2 linked regions of the Homo sapiens genome follow. The protein of the gene in region 2 interacts with the protein of the main gene of each other region in a biochemical or structural test. Each region holds a gene or a part of one and is shown on either strand. Other genes may lie near its edges. The genes, in order: GJC1 and CNST.

What was found.
Region 1: the proteins of CNST (region 2) and GJC1 form a complex in vitro, tested with the Homo sapiens proteins (one study listed by BioGRID).

The regions. Positions count from the first base shown.
Region 1 is NC_000017.11:44,826,640-44,834,690, forward strand, and holds the start of GJC1 (gap junction gamma-1 protein), read right to left. Parts: upstream 3,649-8,051; 5' UTR 3,423-3,648; intron 3,186-3,422; exon of another isoform or gene 2,873-3,185; intron 1-2,872. UniProt on the Homo sapiens protein: One gap junction consists of a cluster of closely packed pairs of transmembrane channels, the connexons, through which materials of low MW diffuse from one cell to a neighboring cell.
Region 2 is NC_000001.11:246,659,771-246,667,763, reverse strand, and holds part of CNST (consortin), read right to left. Parts: intron 7,566-7,993; coding exon 7,430-7,565; intron 2,065-7,429; coding exon 1,859-2,064; 3' UTR 1-1,858. UniProt on the Homo sapiens protein: Required for targeting of connexins to the plasma membrane.

The sequences.
Region 1 (8,051 bases), on a different chromosome or scaffold from region 2:
GCCAAGGACTGCTCTCAGCCAACTACAGTACTTGTAAAATTCAAGAATGTATAACTGTATGCCAGCCAGTACTGACTAACAGGTCATTCACTCTTTAGAGTTGCAGTAAATAGCAATGCTCAAACGCCCAGCTAGTTTTTTGTATTTAAAATTATTTGTATTTAAATCTTAAAAAATATTTTTAAAAATACATTTTACTAGGTTCTTATTTCAACACAAACTGAACTCATCAGCTGTAGCAGTATGTTGAAAAACAACTGTTGCCATTCAGCTGATATTAACAGCTCAGAACTGTTTTCTATGTCTAAATTTCAGGTTAACGATATCAGCCAAAATCTATCTTCTCATACCTATTCTCAAAGGAACGGTCTTACAAAACTAATAATCTGGTCGAGTGCGGTGGCTCACACCTGTAATCCCAGCACTCTGGAAGGCAGAGGCAGGCGGATCACCTAATGTCAAGAGTTGGAGACCAGCCTGACCAACATGGTGAAACCCCGTCTCTACTAAAAAATACAAAATTAGCTGGGCATGGTGGGGCATTCCTGTAATCCCAGCTACTTGGGAGGCTGAGGCATGAGAATCACTTGAACTCGGGAGGCGGAGGTTGCAGTGAGACAAGATAGCACCGTTGCAGTGAGACAAGATAGCACCATTGCACTCCAGCCTGGGCAATAAGAGCTAAACTCCGTCTCAAAAACAAACAAACAAAAAAAAAAAATTCCTGCTTTTTCTTTGCCTAAATTTTTATCAAATATTTTGAACAGAAGCCACATGTATTTCTACACTACAAGAAAAGCATAAGTTCAGAAATAAGTAATCATACCCCCTAGTCAAACTTAACTATAGGAAGGAAGGACAGGACAGGACAGGAAAGGAGGAGAAAAAAGAAATTAGCTGGGTATACTCAGGAGGCTGAGGCAGGAGGATGGCTTGAGCCCAGGAATTTGAGGCTGCAGTGTACTATGACAGCCTGGGCATCATAGCAATGTCTTTGAAAAAAAAAAGGATGGCCGGGCACGGTGGCTCACGCCTGTAATCCCAGCACTCTGGGAGGCCGAGGCGGGAGGATCACAAGGTCAGGAGATCGGGACCATCATGGCTAACATGGTGAAACCCCATCTCTGCTAAAACTACAAAAAAAAATTAGCCAGGCGTGGTGGCGGGTACCTGTAGTCCCAGCCACTGCACTCTAGCCTGGGCGACAGAGCAAGACTCCATCTCAAAAAAAAAAGGAAAAGGAAAAAGAAAAAAGAACACACCTCACCAATTTTGAAATGTGAACATACAACAAATAAAGCAATATTTTTTGGAACTCATCACTTTGCATTGAATTAGGCATGGAACAAACACTAAGCATTTGTTAAGAGAACGATGCTCTGGATTTAAATTATATATCCTGTATTCTAAGATCCTCATTACTCAATTGATAGGCAAGCCTGGACCTGGGGGGAAGTGGACTAATCAGAAACACAACCCTGCATTCCTTCCCTTTGGCTGACTTATACAAATATAAGAATAAAATTTAATTGACAAAGGATAACAGCATTTATAAGTAAGATTGTTATGCTGGAGATATGTTAATTAAGTCCTCTGGATTAAAGGCTAAAACTCAATTTTACCTGCATGAATTGATTACAGAGAAAATTACCAGGTCCTTTGCTCCTTTTTAAGAGAACTGTGGTAGAACTTTTTAAGAGAACTGTTTCTGGTAGAAAACAATTCTTAAGTCACACAACCTCAAAAGTTAAAAGTGCTGGCTTTTGAAGAGGTTGTTTGAAATGCTTTGGAAAAATGCACAACAGTTTAAGTAGTAAATAATATTAAGCCATTACAAATCAGGACAAATATTAACAGACCTTCCATACAACTTCTATGTATCTCTTCAATATGCCCTTTGCCTACAGCACTCTGGGCACAAAAATCTGGGGAAAACTAAGATCTGTTTATTGGAGCTTTTTACCTTCTACCCAGAAAAGTTAGTTCGTGTTTAATTCTGACATTACACAGTACTTAAGACATTCAAAGCAACTGCAGTGATACAACTCTATGCTAAGTTTTTTTTAAATCAGTAAACTTAACCCACAACTCACAATATTTTAATCAGGAGCTCTGGAAGTAAGGGTATTTTTCTGTTTTTTTCCATACCCTCTGAGGTTGAAATTTTTTTGCTCTTTTACTCTGAATAATACCTAAACCCTCTCTAGGGAGAGAAATATTTTATTCCTAAATGACATTATTAACGCATTTTTCTACAGATATTAAAGTACTGGAGATATGCTGTTTCCTGCTTATCAGGAAATTAAAATCCCTTTCATTTATGTAGTTTGATTTTTTATAGCGCTTTCACATATATTCACTTGAACGTATACACGACACAAACATATAACAAATTTAGACTTATCAGGCATACAAGATGACCCTCAGCCTGAACTTATTCAAACTTAACTTACTCGATTTCACATCGTCTTGATGCTAACAAAATTAAGCATGAGCATAATGAAATCGGTATCACTGCCAGTTCTCAATGAACAAAAAGAAAACCAAATTCGCCCATTTCGCAAAGGAAAAGTACTCCCAATCAGACAATCGCAAAAAAAAGAACAAAATCTAAACCATACATTCACGTACATCTTTTCAACTCAGAGCTCCAAACGCAGCCGCCAACCACACAACTGCCCACAATCACAGCGGTAGCGCCTACTCTTAATTTTGAAGCTAGAGACTTAAGGAAACACACACACACACAAAACAGTTCTCAAGTTTGACAAAGTGGGGGAAAAGTCATTTTAAGTAAAGACAACGAGTTAATCAGGAGGCGATGAGCCCAGTCCTTCCGCCCCGCTTTCCCGCTTCCAGCCCTCGAACGAACCCTCCTCTAACCCCCGGGAGGCAGGAGTTCCAGCGGGGAGATGCGGGAAGCCTCAGACGAGCCCGCACGCCGCCGGAGACGCAGGGATCGAGGTCGGGGAGACAAAGAGCAGCCCGCGAAGAGCCCGGGCGGCGAGGGGCGGCCCGGCTCCGCCCTGCGCCCCTAACCGCCCGGGTAGTTGTCGGCACCGCCGGGGCGCCGCCGAGTGCGCGCCGCTTCTGTCCGGGCTCCCCGACCGTCGCCCGACACCTCCGCGGCCCAGGACACCCCCGAGCCGTTTCCCTCCCGATTTGGGAGCCGCGCGCCTGGGGACAAAGAGGGAGGGTGCGCCGGGGACAGTGGCAGGACGCGGGCCGGCGACGCCCCTCCGGACTCGGCGGGAACCCCTCGGCGGCGCCCCCCTCCTTCTCCCGCTCTGGCCGCGCTCCTCCCCGGACCTCCGGAGGTTCTCCTCGGCCCCTCCCCGGGCTCCCCAAGAGTTCTCCCGCCTCCCCCTGGGACCCCGCCCCTGGCCCGCTTCTCCTCAGCCGGCCCTGCGGCCGCCCCTCACCCGGCGGCGGGTTCCCCCGGAGCCGCCTCCTCCGCCGGGCCTCGGCCCGTCCCGCCGGTCGCGGCCTCATGTGCCCCGCGTCGCCATCGCCTTCACCCTCGCCTCTCCTCCACCTCCTCCGCCGCTGCCGCCTTCGCCTCAGTCTCCAGCCGAGGCAGAAGCCGCTCCCGCCGCTGCCGCCGCCGCCGCCGCCTCCCGCTCCCGCCGCCGCGACCCGCGGGAAGGCGCCTGCGCACTGCGCGCTGCGGTGGGGGCGGGGGCGTCCCGCCGCGGCCCGGGAGCGGGGGGCGCGCGGCACGTGGCGCTCGAGTGGGAGGGGGGCGCCCCAGAACGCGCGGGAAGCGACGCGAGCGCCAACTTTCCGCGGTCGAGTCCTCGCCGCTCTCTCGGATAGTCCGGGACGCGGCGGAGGCGCGGCGCGCGTGGGAGTCACCCGCGTGGAGTCTGGACCCCGGGTGGGCGCAGACTTCGCTCCGGACAGTTCATTCTTCCAAGCTGATTTTCGGGCGAGAGTCCCCCGCCAGCCGCGCCTCAGTTTGAGCGGGCCGCTAACGGCGCCGTGGGTTCTCGCCTTACCTGGGTATCCTGGGTTGGTTTAGCGGGCCCAGAGTTGTCTTCTGCGCGCTCCGCCGAGGCCTTGGTCCATTGTAGCACGGGATGCTAATGTCTCCTCCCAGGTTCTGCTCTACAATTCCTCGAGGATCTGGCGGGCCCTGCGTGGATCTAGCTAGAGTCGGGGCTCTTAGCAGTGCTCTAGATACTTTTCAGGTCCTGAACTTCTCGGATTAGCAAGACCCTAATAGGCTATTTCCTCTTAACTCTTTGCATCCCAGCAGGATCCCATTCAGAGGACTTGGGAAAAATTTTCATGCATAGGAATCCCCAGTTTTAAAATGCCCAGTAGGAAACCGAAAATTCTCCAAATGCTTTAAGTAGAGTAAGACTTTGGGTAATAAAGGAAGGCTCAGTAAAGAGATGGGCGACCTCTGGAATGATCTCATCTGAGCATCAGAATGCCGATGGACAGGCTTTTATTATTTTGCCCTTTTGACCAGAGGGGAAATTAAGCGCTAACAAGTGAGGTTACTTGCTGCAAGTCAAACTCCCCCACCCAAAGCCAAGCCCTAAGGGGTAGCCCCAGAGTGGAAATCTTGAAGGCTAGGCATCTAATGCACTGACCAGTTTTGTGTGGCCAGTATGTTTTCCAAAAATATGAATTAGTTACCAAAATATTAAAATCCAGATTTCTGGCCTCCCTAAAAAGTCAAAAGCTGCTTACTTTGAGCTTCTCTTTTCACATGGCAGCTCCTCTTGAGTCACCTTGTCCGGGTAGGCAATGTCCCCACTCAGCTGCTTAAATCATTTCATGACCTGCTTGGCCTCGGAGCATTTAAGTACTTCTCCCTGTGATTGCTGTAGTCTGTCCCCACGCCTTATCACATTGCCTCTCTACAGATGTATTTAAAATGACAAGTGTGGGATGGGCGCGGTGGCTCACGCCTGTAATTCCAGCACTTTGGGAGGCCTAGGCAGGCGGATTGCTTGAGCCCTGGGGTTCCAGACCAGCCTGGACAATATGGCAAAACCCCCATCTCTACAAAAAATACAAAAATTAGCCGGGTGTGGTGACGCGCACCTGTGATCCTAGCTACTCCAAGCATGAGGTGGGAGGATCGCTTGAGCCCGGGAGGTCAAGGCTGCAGTAAGCTGAGATAGCGCCACTGCACTCCAGCCTGAGCGACAGAGTGAGACCCTGTCTCAAAAAAATAAGTGAAAAAAATAAAATGACCAGGGTGAAAACTCTGAAAATACCTGGAAATAATAAATAGCATGTAACTAAAATAACACAGGAAACAACATCATTGTACCTGTTGAATAAAATATTAAAATTCTCACAGCCTGCAACTGTAAACTAGTACAAATAACTTTTTTGTTTTGTTTTGTTTTGAGGGAGAGTCTCACTCTGTCGCCAGGCTGGAGTGCAGTGGGCGCCATCTAGGCTCACTGCAAGCTCCACCTCCCCGGTTCAAGCAATTCTCCTGCCTCAGCCTCCCGAGTAGCTGGGACTACAGGCGCACGCAACCACGCCCAACTAATTTTTGTATTTTTAGTAGAGACAGGGTTTCACCATGTTGGCCAGGATGGTCTCGATCTCCTGACCTTGTGATCCGCCTGCCTCGGCCTCCCAAAGTGCTGGGATTACAGGCATGAGCCACCGTGCCTGGCCTAAATCACTTTGTTGTTGTTTTTGCAACAGAGTCTCACTCTGTCGCCCACGCTGGAGTGCAGTGGGGTGATCTCGGCTCACTGCGATGTCCGCCTCCCAGGTTCAAAAGATTCTACTACCTCAGCCTCCGGAGTAGCTGGGAATACAGGTGCCCGCCATCATGCCTGGCTAATTTTTGTATTTTTAGTAGAAAGGGGGTTTCACCATGTTGGCCAGGCTGGTCTCAAATCCTGACCTCAAGTGATCTGCCCGCCTTGGCCTCCCAAAGAGCTGGGATTACAGACATGAGCCACCGTGCCCAGCGGACTTTGCAAAACTGGCAATATCTACTGTTGAGGCTCAGAAAATGATTTCCCAGGGCGTGGTGGCTGTAGTCCCAGCTACTCAGGAAACTGCAGTGGGCTATGATTATGCCACTACACTCCAGCCTGGAAGACAGAGCGAGACCCCATCTCTTTAAAAAAGAAAGAAAGAAAACAATATCCCAAAGTATGGAGCTTTGGCGTGCTGAGTGCTTTGAACTAAAGGAGATTGGAAGGCCTCAGAAGCAAAGTCTCTCTCTGACCTTCTCCTGCCCTCCTGTCTCCCGCCCCTTTCTCCCCTGAAGCGAGTCATAGAAATAAAAATTCCTCTTCCCCAAGGCGGGTCATAGAAACTAGAACCCCTCTCCCCCAAAGCAAGCCATAAAACCAGAAAGGTCACTCTCCCCCTTCTCTCCTCCCCCTTGAAGACCCTCATTCCAGAGGAACCAGGAAGGAATACCCTGGAGGAAGGAATGTTACACTGGGAAGCCAAGAAGAATTTGAACCGACAAGCCTTGTTGGGTTCCCCGCTCAGTCTGTTAAATTAGATCATACCCCTTTTGTCTGATCACATTCTGCTTGTCCATTCTGCATTGAACCTAAGCATAAAAACAATTGTTCTAGGGTATTGAGGGTGTGTGTGTGTGTGTGTGTGTGTGTGTGTGAGAGAGAGAGAGAGAGAGACCGGGTCTCTCTCCATCACCCAGGCTGGAGTGCAGTGGCATGATCTCGGCTCACTGCAACCTCCGCCTCCCAGGTTCAACTGATTCTCATGCCTCAGCCTCCCAAGCAGCTGGGACTACAGGCGCACACCACCACGCCCGGCTAATTTTTTTTGTATTTTTAGTAGAGACTGGTTTTCACTATGTTGGTGAGGCTGGTCTTGAACTCCTGACCTCGTGATCCACCCGCCTAGGCCTCCCAAAGTGCTGGGATTACAGGTGTGAGCCACCGCACTCGGCCCTTTGAGGTCTTAATTTCCGAAGTCTCTTGTGTTACATAAAACTTTGGTTAAATAACTTGGTTATGCCCTTCTCTTGTTAATCTGGGTTTTGTTATAGGAGTGTCAGCTGTGATCCTTATGATGGATGAGGAAAGGTGTCACACCTTTCCGCCACTACACTACTAAAGCTGAACCTATGAATACACTATGCCTTTGGAATTCCATGGCAATTCCACGAAAATGTGTACAAATGTTCACCAAAATACTTGTACTAGAGTATTCATAGCAGCACTATTTATAATAAGTCAAAAAACTAGAAACTACCCAAAATGCCTGTCAACCGTAGAATGGCTAAATTGTGTTACGTACATTATGCTGCAATGAAAATGAACAATCTACATTTACACATAAGATGGATCTCACAAAAGTTTTCATTTACAAAAACTTCAAAAACAGACAAAACTGGCCAGGTGCTGTGGCTCATGCCTGTTATCCCAGCGCTTAGGGAGGCCAAGGTGGGCGGATCACTTGAGCTCAGTAGTTCAAGACCAGCCTTAGCAACATGGCAAAACCTTACCTCTACAAAAAATACAAAAATTAGCCAGGCATGGTTGCATGTGCCTGGAGTCTCAGCTACTCCAGAGGCTGAGGTGGTGAGGTGGGAAGATCACTTGAGCTGGGGAAGTTGAGGCTGCAGTGAGCTGTGATTGTGCCACTGAACCACTGCACCACTGCACTCCAGCCTGGGTTACAGAGCAAGACCGCGTTTAAAAAAAAACAAAACAACAACAACAAAAAAAAAAAACAAGCAAAACTAATCCATGCCGTTAGAAGTAGGGACAGTTGGCCAGGCGCGGTGGCTCACGCCTGTAATCCCAGCACTCTGGGAGGCCGAGGGGAGCAGATCACCTAAGGTCAGGAGTTCAAGACCAGCCTGGCTAACATGGTGAAAACCCATTTCTACTAAAAATACAAAAAATTAGATGGGTGTGGTGGCGCATGCCTGTAATCCCAGCTACTCAGGAGGCTGAGGCAGGAGAATTGCTTGAACCTGGGAGGCAGAGGTTGCAGTGAGCTGAGATCATGCCATTGCACTGCAGCTTGGGGCAACAAGAGCAAAACTCAAAAAAAAAAAAAAAAGAAGTAGTAAGGTGCAG
Region 2 (7,993 bases):
CAGAGGAGGTTTGTCTATGATGAGGATGTCCATCACAGTAGAACTTGTGAATAGCTTTTATAGAACCACTTAATATAGTACCGTCAACATTTTACATATTTTACATACAATTTGAATACAAATTCTTAAAATTTATAATAGAACATTAAAATAATCTTCTAATAAAATCAGCCTTAAGTATAAGGAATCTAAATTTCATTATCTTGTACATTTCTAAATAAATATCTTTGATCTATAACCCTTGAAAATATTACAGTTTATGGTGACATGATAGAGACAAGTCAAACAGTATTATAAGTGAAAATGAAACATCAATTTAAAATGAACAAGTGTAAAAACACGCGGAACTGAAATTATAGAAAATCAAAACACTAAATACACAGTAATTAAATATCTAGCACTGGAATCACCAAATGCATGCGCAGTAACACACTTTCAACTGATATAAAAAGCCCTTTAAGATTCACATAATCTAAATAAATAAGCAGAAACACAAAGGGAGGTACTGTGCCAGCCAGTAACAACTAGAAAGTAAGTTCTCCCTTTTTCTTTCAAATGATCCTAACAGAAGACAGGAAATAAAGATCACTTGTTAAAAACTATAATTCATGTTTGGTTTTTCTTTGTTGTTTTTTTTTTAATGCTGCCCGATAAAGTCAAAGCAAGGCTTCCTAAATGTTAGACCACTACACCTCAGATAAGGAAAGGCCACCTAACGGACAGATTTAAACAAAAATCAGACATTTGTCTATGGAAGGTATGATTGAATTTTTGCGTAATGACCCCGCAATAGGATCTAAATCAAGCCCACAACAAGAATGCACATTCAAGCATCTGAATGCATGATCTGTTAATACTGAATTCTATATGGTGATTTCACTCAGCAAAGTACTGGTTTATTCTATATAAGACCAGGATTAAAACACCTACAGTGGGAACTGTATCTTACTTAAGTTTGCATTCTGGTTCTCAGAATCTCAGAACATAATAGGTGTAAGCGTTTGCCAAACTGAGTCCAGCATTCATGATTTCAGGAAGCTTTGCATCCGTGACAAAACTGTTGCCTGAGACTCAGGGGAGCTTTTTCTTTGGTCTCTAGGCCTGTGATTAATTTCTGGCTAATCAAGTTAATTGACACAGATCTGTCACAGTTTCTCATTGCAGGGTCAAGAGTTCTAGAATTCATCTATTCCACAGTTAAGCCTTCTCCAAAGATTTGTGCCTGCACATCATCATCAAGTTAAAAGAAGAAAGATCATCTTTGTGATGTTGGGTATTTGCTTATGTTAACTGCCGGAAGCACATGCGCACGCACACACACGCAAACACACAATCACTTCATAAGTGGAGAACAGAAGTGAAATAATACGCAAAGCCTAAATTACACAGCTCCCAAGTTAACTAAAGAATGACACTGAAACCATAAGGTAACTCCTTCTGATTACACACAAACTTATTGCGTGATGGCGGAAAGCAACTTCTATGACCCAACAAGTGTAAACCAAAAGTGTTCTTTAACCATTAGCTTGACAAGGTAGCTAAAAATAGTGTGGTTAAGACTACCCTGTTTAATTCTGCTCAGTGTACCTCATGACATTAGGAGGCAGTGAGGAGGAGATGGATATGCTCTCTCCAAAGACCATTCCTTCCATCCACAATGCTTAGATTGATATTTGCCTCACTGTGTGGATTATTCTAACAGAGTTCCTCCGGCTTGCCACTTAAAGTTGCTATTTCTGATGTCCTTGGTTCCTAACAGAGGGAAGGGGGAATGCTACAGAATTCCTGAAAGAAAAACTGTTTAGAAAGTCTCCCGCCTTTCACTCTCACTGCCAGCATGTCTGTGTCTGGAATGCTGCTAGGAGAGGTAGATCCAGTGCTTCAGTTCTGCCACTCCCTGAAGTAACTTAGTGTAATAGAAGTCCATGTTGTCTGCAAAGTCAGTACAAACAGGTGACTCCATGTCACCGAAAGTGCAGTATAATGCAGTTCCTCCAACACTGAGGAAAACCGTTGCTATGCACAGCAAGACCAGCAAAATACAGGAGCCACCTCCAACTTCATCTGCAAACATGAGAAAGAGTGAGGTTACATTGTCACCGAAATGGAAATCTTAGCATCTGCTGTCTTTTCACTAATTAAGATAACTACACATTTCTACTGTTGGTCCTCTACGGATAGGAAGTATTGACAGAAAACTCATGCTGCTAATGACTCTACAAAGACCTACCTATTAAATACCAAGAAGATTCAGACTTGTGGAGCTTGTACAAGCTAAAATTAAAACTAGCTCATTTATACAATGGACAGAATCACTCCATGAGAAGAAGAAAAACAGCTCACGTGCTCATAGCACGCATTAATGAATTCATTCATTTTTGTTTGTTTTTTAGAGACAGGGTCTCACTTTGTCACCCTGGCTGAAGTGCAGTGGCAAAATCTTGGCTCACTGCAGCCCTGACACCTGGGCTCAAGTAGTCCTCCTGCCTCAGCCTCCTGAGCAGCTAGGACTACAGGCCTGTGCCACCATGCCTGGCTATTTATTTTTTATTTTTTGGTAGAGATGGGGTCTCACTATGCTGCAGAGGGTGGTCTTGAACTCCTGGCCTCAAGTTATCTTCATGTCATGGCCTCTCAAAGTACTGGGATTACAGGTGTGAGCCAGCATGCCCACCCCGACAGCATTATTTGACAGTCTACAGTACAGCCTGGCTGTTCTAAGATCCTTGGGGTTCACATAATGGGACTACCTGAGAGCAAAGTCGACTTAATATTAAACAATAAAAATGCCTTTGGGTGGGATCTCTTTTGCATCTTTCTATATTGAAGAAAACAATCATTCTTTGGTTGAAAAATATCTTAATTATTCATAATTTAAAAAAAATTTTAATTTCAAAAAGACCAAAAAGTCTTCTGATCTGCAGCATGATTAAAGTGTAGGAATGCCTTTTTGGAAGGTAATTTGGCAGTATCTATTAAAATTTAAAATTAATTTATCCTACAGACTGGACAATTTTGAGAGTAAAAGACAGTGTTAAGGCTGGGTGTGGTGGCTCACGCCTGTAATCCCAGCACTTTGGGAGGCTGAGGCGGGCGGATCACGAGGTCAGGAGATCGAGACCATCCTGGCTGACACGGTGAAACCCCGTCTCTACTAAAAATATAAAAAATCAGCTGGGCGTGGTGGCAGGTGCCTATAGTCTCAGCTACTCAGGAGGCTGAGGCAGGAGAATGGCATGAACCTGGGAGGCGGAGGTTGCAGTGAGCTGAGATCACACCACTGCACTCCAGCCTGGGCCACAGGGCGAGACTCCTTCTCAAAAAAAAAAAAAGAAAAAAAGACAGTGTTAACTGAATGCAATTCCGGGACAACAGGTGTAAACCAGGACGGCCTCAGGCCACCTGGGACATATAGTTTCAACATATCCCAGCAAATCCACCTTTAAGAATTAGGCTACAGTTCTGCACAACAAATATCATATATACAAGCTTGTTCACTGCAGCAGGGTTTGTTATAACAAAAGGCTGGGAATAACTTAGTGGTTCTGGTTACAATGGAACAGTTAAACAATTATGGGACATTTATATAATGGAATATGATGTAAGTATTTAATAGAATGAAGTAAATTTAATATGTTCTTTCATTGAAGGATGTCTAAGACTCATGATTTAATTTTTACTTTATTAAACTGATTTTTTTCATAATTAGCATATATTTTTACAAGAAACAAATTTTACAAAACCTAATGGATACCAAATAGACTTTATTTAGAACATTGTGCAGTAATACATGAATATATTCTCCCTGTAAAAACGCAACCCCAAAAGCATCTTAGAGTCTAAGGGACTATCCGTTTTTCTCCCGCCCAATCATATTTCCTTCCCATCCCAGAGGTAAACACTGTTAAATTTGGTGTGTGTCATTTCAGATCAAACACGTATGATTTCAGGACTTACATCAAAATAGGATTAAAAAATTGTTTGCTCTGAAATTTACATTTTAAAATAGTTGTTTTTTTTTTTGAGACAGAGTCTTGTTCTTGTTGCCCAGGCTAGAGTGCAATGGTGTGATCTTGGCTCACTGCAACCTCTGCCTCCTGGGTTCAAGCAATTCTCCTGCCTCAGCCTCCTGGGTAGCTGAGATTACAGGCACCTGCCATCATGCCTGGCTACTTTTTGTATTGTTATAGAGATGGGGTTTCACCATATTGGCCAGGCTGGTCTCAAACTCCTGACCTCAGGTGATTTGCCCGCCTTGGCCTCCCAAAGTGCTGGGATTACAGGCATAAGCCACCACGCCCAGTCTAAAATAGTTTATACCTATGTATGAAAATATGTCTTTTATATAAATGAAGAAATAGGATCATATTAATCATGCTGTATTTTTTTGGACAGTTCGGTCTTGTCTTTCTTTTTTTTTTTTTTTTAGACATAGGGTTGTGCTCTGTCACCAGGCCACACTCACTGCAGCCTCAACCTCCTGGGCTCAAGCGATCCTCCCATCTCAGCCTCCCAAGTAGCTGGGACCAAAGGTGCACACACCACCATGCCCTGCTAATTTCTGTATTTTTTGTAGAGATGGGGTCTTGCCATGTTTGCCCAGGCTGGTCTCCAACTCCTGGCCTCGAGTGATCCAGGAGGAAGACTTGGGAGGAGGCTTCCCCAAGTGCTGGGATGACAGGTGTGAGCCACTGCACCATGCCTTACGTGCTTTTCTTAACATGATTCCTACCCCCACTTCATCTATGTTAACAACCTAAAGTATTTTTCTTCATTATCATATATTCAAATCCAAACATTTAAATATAGCTTAAATATGTAAAAGCATCTATGCTGTTTGTTTTATTTATATGTCCTAGACCTGTCTGAGCTGTACTGTCCGATGTGAGCCACAGGTGGCTGTTGGGCACTTGACATGTAGCTGGTCCAAACTGAGCGGCGATGAACACAGATTCTGAATACTTAGTGTGAAAAAAAGGATGTAAAATGTCTCACTAGTAATTTTTTCATATAGATCACATTTTGAAATAATTTTTATGTACTGGGTTAAATAAAATACATTCTTAAAATTCTGGCCAGGTGCGGTGGCTCACGCCTGTAATCCCAGCACTTTGGGAGGCCGAGGCAGGCAGATCACCTGAGGTCAGGAGTTCGAGACCAGCCTGGCCAACATGGTGAAACCCCCTGTCTCTACTAAAAGTACAAAAATTAGCCAGGCGTCGGGGAACATGCCTGTAATCCCAGCTACCTGGGAGGCTGAGGCAGAAGAATCGCTTGAACTCGGGAGGCGGAGGTTGCAGCGAGCCAAGATCGCACCACTGCACTCCAGCCGGGCGACAGAGTGAGATCCCGTCTCAAAAAAAATAAAATCAAATAAAAAATAAAATTCATCTCACCTGTTTCTTTTCACTTTAACATGGCTACTACAAAGCTGAAAATCATACATGTGCCTCACATTAATTTCCAGGGGATAGCATTGGCTTACAGAAGGAAGAACAGGCCCTTTTAGGAAGATTTTGGCAGAAGGTGAGGTTTATGAAAACACCGTGTAAGTCACAGAGCTTAGGAACAAACCAACACAATCAACATTTACATTTAGTTTTATAATTCTCAAAATGAATTTATACATATTATCTGACACGCTTTTCAATAGGGACAGAGAGGCAGATGTTATTCTCCTTATTTTAAAGATGATGGAACTCAGTCTCCTACAAGTAAGTGACTTAGTTTAAGATGAGGTGGCTACAAAGTGAAATGCAGACTGTGAGTTTCAAATCCGGGGTTCCTCCTATTAAGGAACGATTTGGTCAAATTAGTGCAAACAGAAGTGAGCACCTTATCTGGAGAAGACTGTGAGAGTTACAAGCAAGGTGCAGAAGTAAAATCAGGGGTTAGGACATTATTTCTAAGGCCCCCTAACCAGCTTTCTAATTGTAAAAATGCAGAAACCTCTACTGTTATCACTTATGTCACACCCAGAAAGCATACCTAAATATTTACACTGTTATTTTAACAATGCAGTTGTTTTATGAATATGAGAAGCCCACTGACAGGTTCTGGGTTACCTTTCCATTTACTCTTATTTACTTACACCTTAGATAAACATATTTGCAACCATAAAAGGCAGCATTGTTCACTACAAAACTCACCACCTCATGTTAGACCAAGTCAGGGCCTTAAGTTTGACAGGCCCAGGACGAAGAAGTCAAACAGCAGCAATGGTGTAAAACTGCTGCTCTCGAGAGACACTCTTTTCTATCAATGAAGAGGAAATCACTGAAGAGAATATTCATAAATATTTTCCACAATAAAGGAGGAGTATTAATTGTCCACTGAAAAGAAGACAAGCCGGGCATGGTGGCTCATGCCTGTAATCCCAGCACTTTGGGAGGCCGAGGTGGGTGGATCACTTGAAGCCAGGAGTTCGAGACTAGCCTGGCCAACATGGCAAAACCTCATCTCTACTAAAAATACAGAAAACTAGCCAGGGCCTGGTGCGGTGGCTCACACCTGTAATCCTAGCACTTTGGGAGGCCAAGGCAGGCAGATCCTAACCTCATGAGGTTAGGAGTTTGAGACCAGCCTGACCAACATGGTGAAACCCCGTCTCCACTAAAAATACAAAAATTAGCCGGGCGTGGTGGCATGTGCCTGTAAGCCCAGCTACTCAGGAGGCTGAGGCAGGAGAATTGCTTGAACCTGGGAGGTGGAGGTTGAGGTTGCAGTGATTTGCGCCACTGCAATCCAGCCTGGGTGACAGAGCAAGACCGTCTTAAAAAAAAAACAAAAAAACAACAAAAGACAAAAATAGCAGACTCACACAAAAAGTACTAAAGAGGGAAACTGAACTAAGCTCTCAACATTAACTGTCTATGGAACAGGGAGGCCACAAGTTGAATTTTGCAGCTTGCTCACTTATTTAAGCAAGTAAAGATTTAGAAATGATTTAAGATGATAGTTGGATTTTATATGTTTCTCCCTTAGAAGATAAAGCAACTAAACTGACATATTCTTTTATTTACTTATTTATATTTATTTTTTGAGATGGAGCCTCGCTCTGCCACCTAGGCTGAAGTGCAGTGGCACGCTCTTGGCTCACTGTAACCTGTCTCCCGGGTTCAAGCGATTCTCCTGCTTCAGTCTCCTGAGTAGCTGGGATTACAGGCGCGTACCCCCACACTCGCTAATTTTTCTAATTTTAGTGGACACAGGGTTTTGTCATGTTGGTCAGGCTTGTCTCGAACTCCTGATTTCAAGTGATCTGCCCGCCTGAGCCTCCTAAAGTGCTGGGATTACAGGTGTGAGCCACCGTGCCTGGCGGACATAGTCTTTTACAAATCCTGTTAGTAAACGTCACATCATTCACAAACTCATCCTTTCAGCAAACACTGAGCATCTATCCTGCTAGCCACAGTGCCAAGCGGTTTACCTTGATCCAAGCTATCGTCTATTTCTTGGAATCTCACTCTTCGCTTAGATGGTTTGTGTTGCATTTGGGCAGGATGATCTCCTACAGTATCATTCCTCTTCTTTAATATGGAGACCAATCCTTCAGTAGGAACAACCTGTCAGAAATTATAAGAACCTATAATTCTTTTATTAAGGCGGGACATCTCTACATGTAGCTATAAAAAGGCTCATTCAACAGATATTTGAATTTTTATTACAGGGGTATCCAATTCCTATAGAAAAAAATAACATCAAAATCTAACAGAATAAAACTTTCACTTCTCTGCAGATGACTGAGAAACACAAAAGTCCAAAACCCTGGTTTCCTTTTTTAACCCCTGAACTCACTCCGGGGACAGGCAGCATGACGTGTTCAGTCGACTGGAAATCAGAACACCTTGCTTTGTAGCTTAACTTCCCTGTTATCGGTAAAATGATCACTCACAGTCCCCTCTTTGCTTCGTCATTAGCACTGGGTTTTGCTTTATAATAAATGCTTATAATCCTCCACTGCTTTTTTCATTCATCAGCAATTTTAAACAAA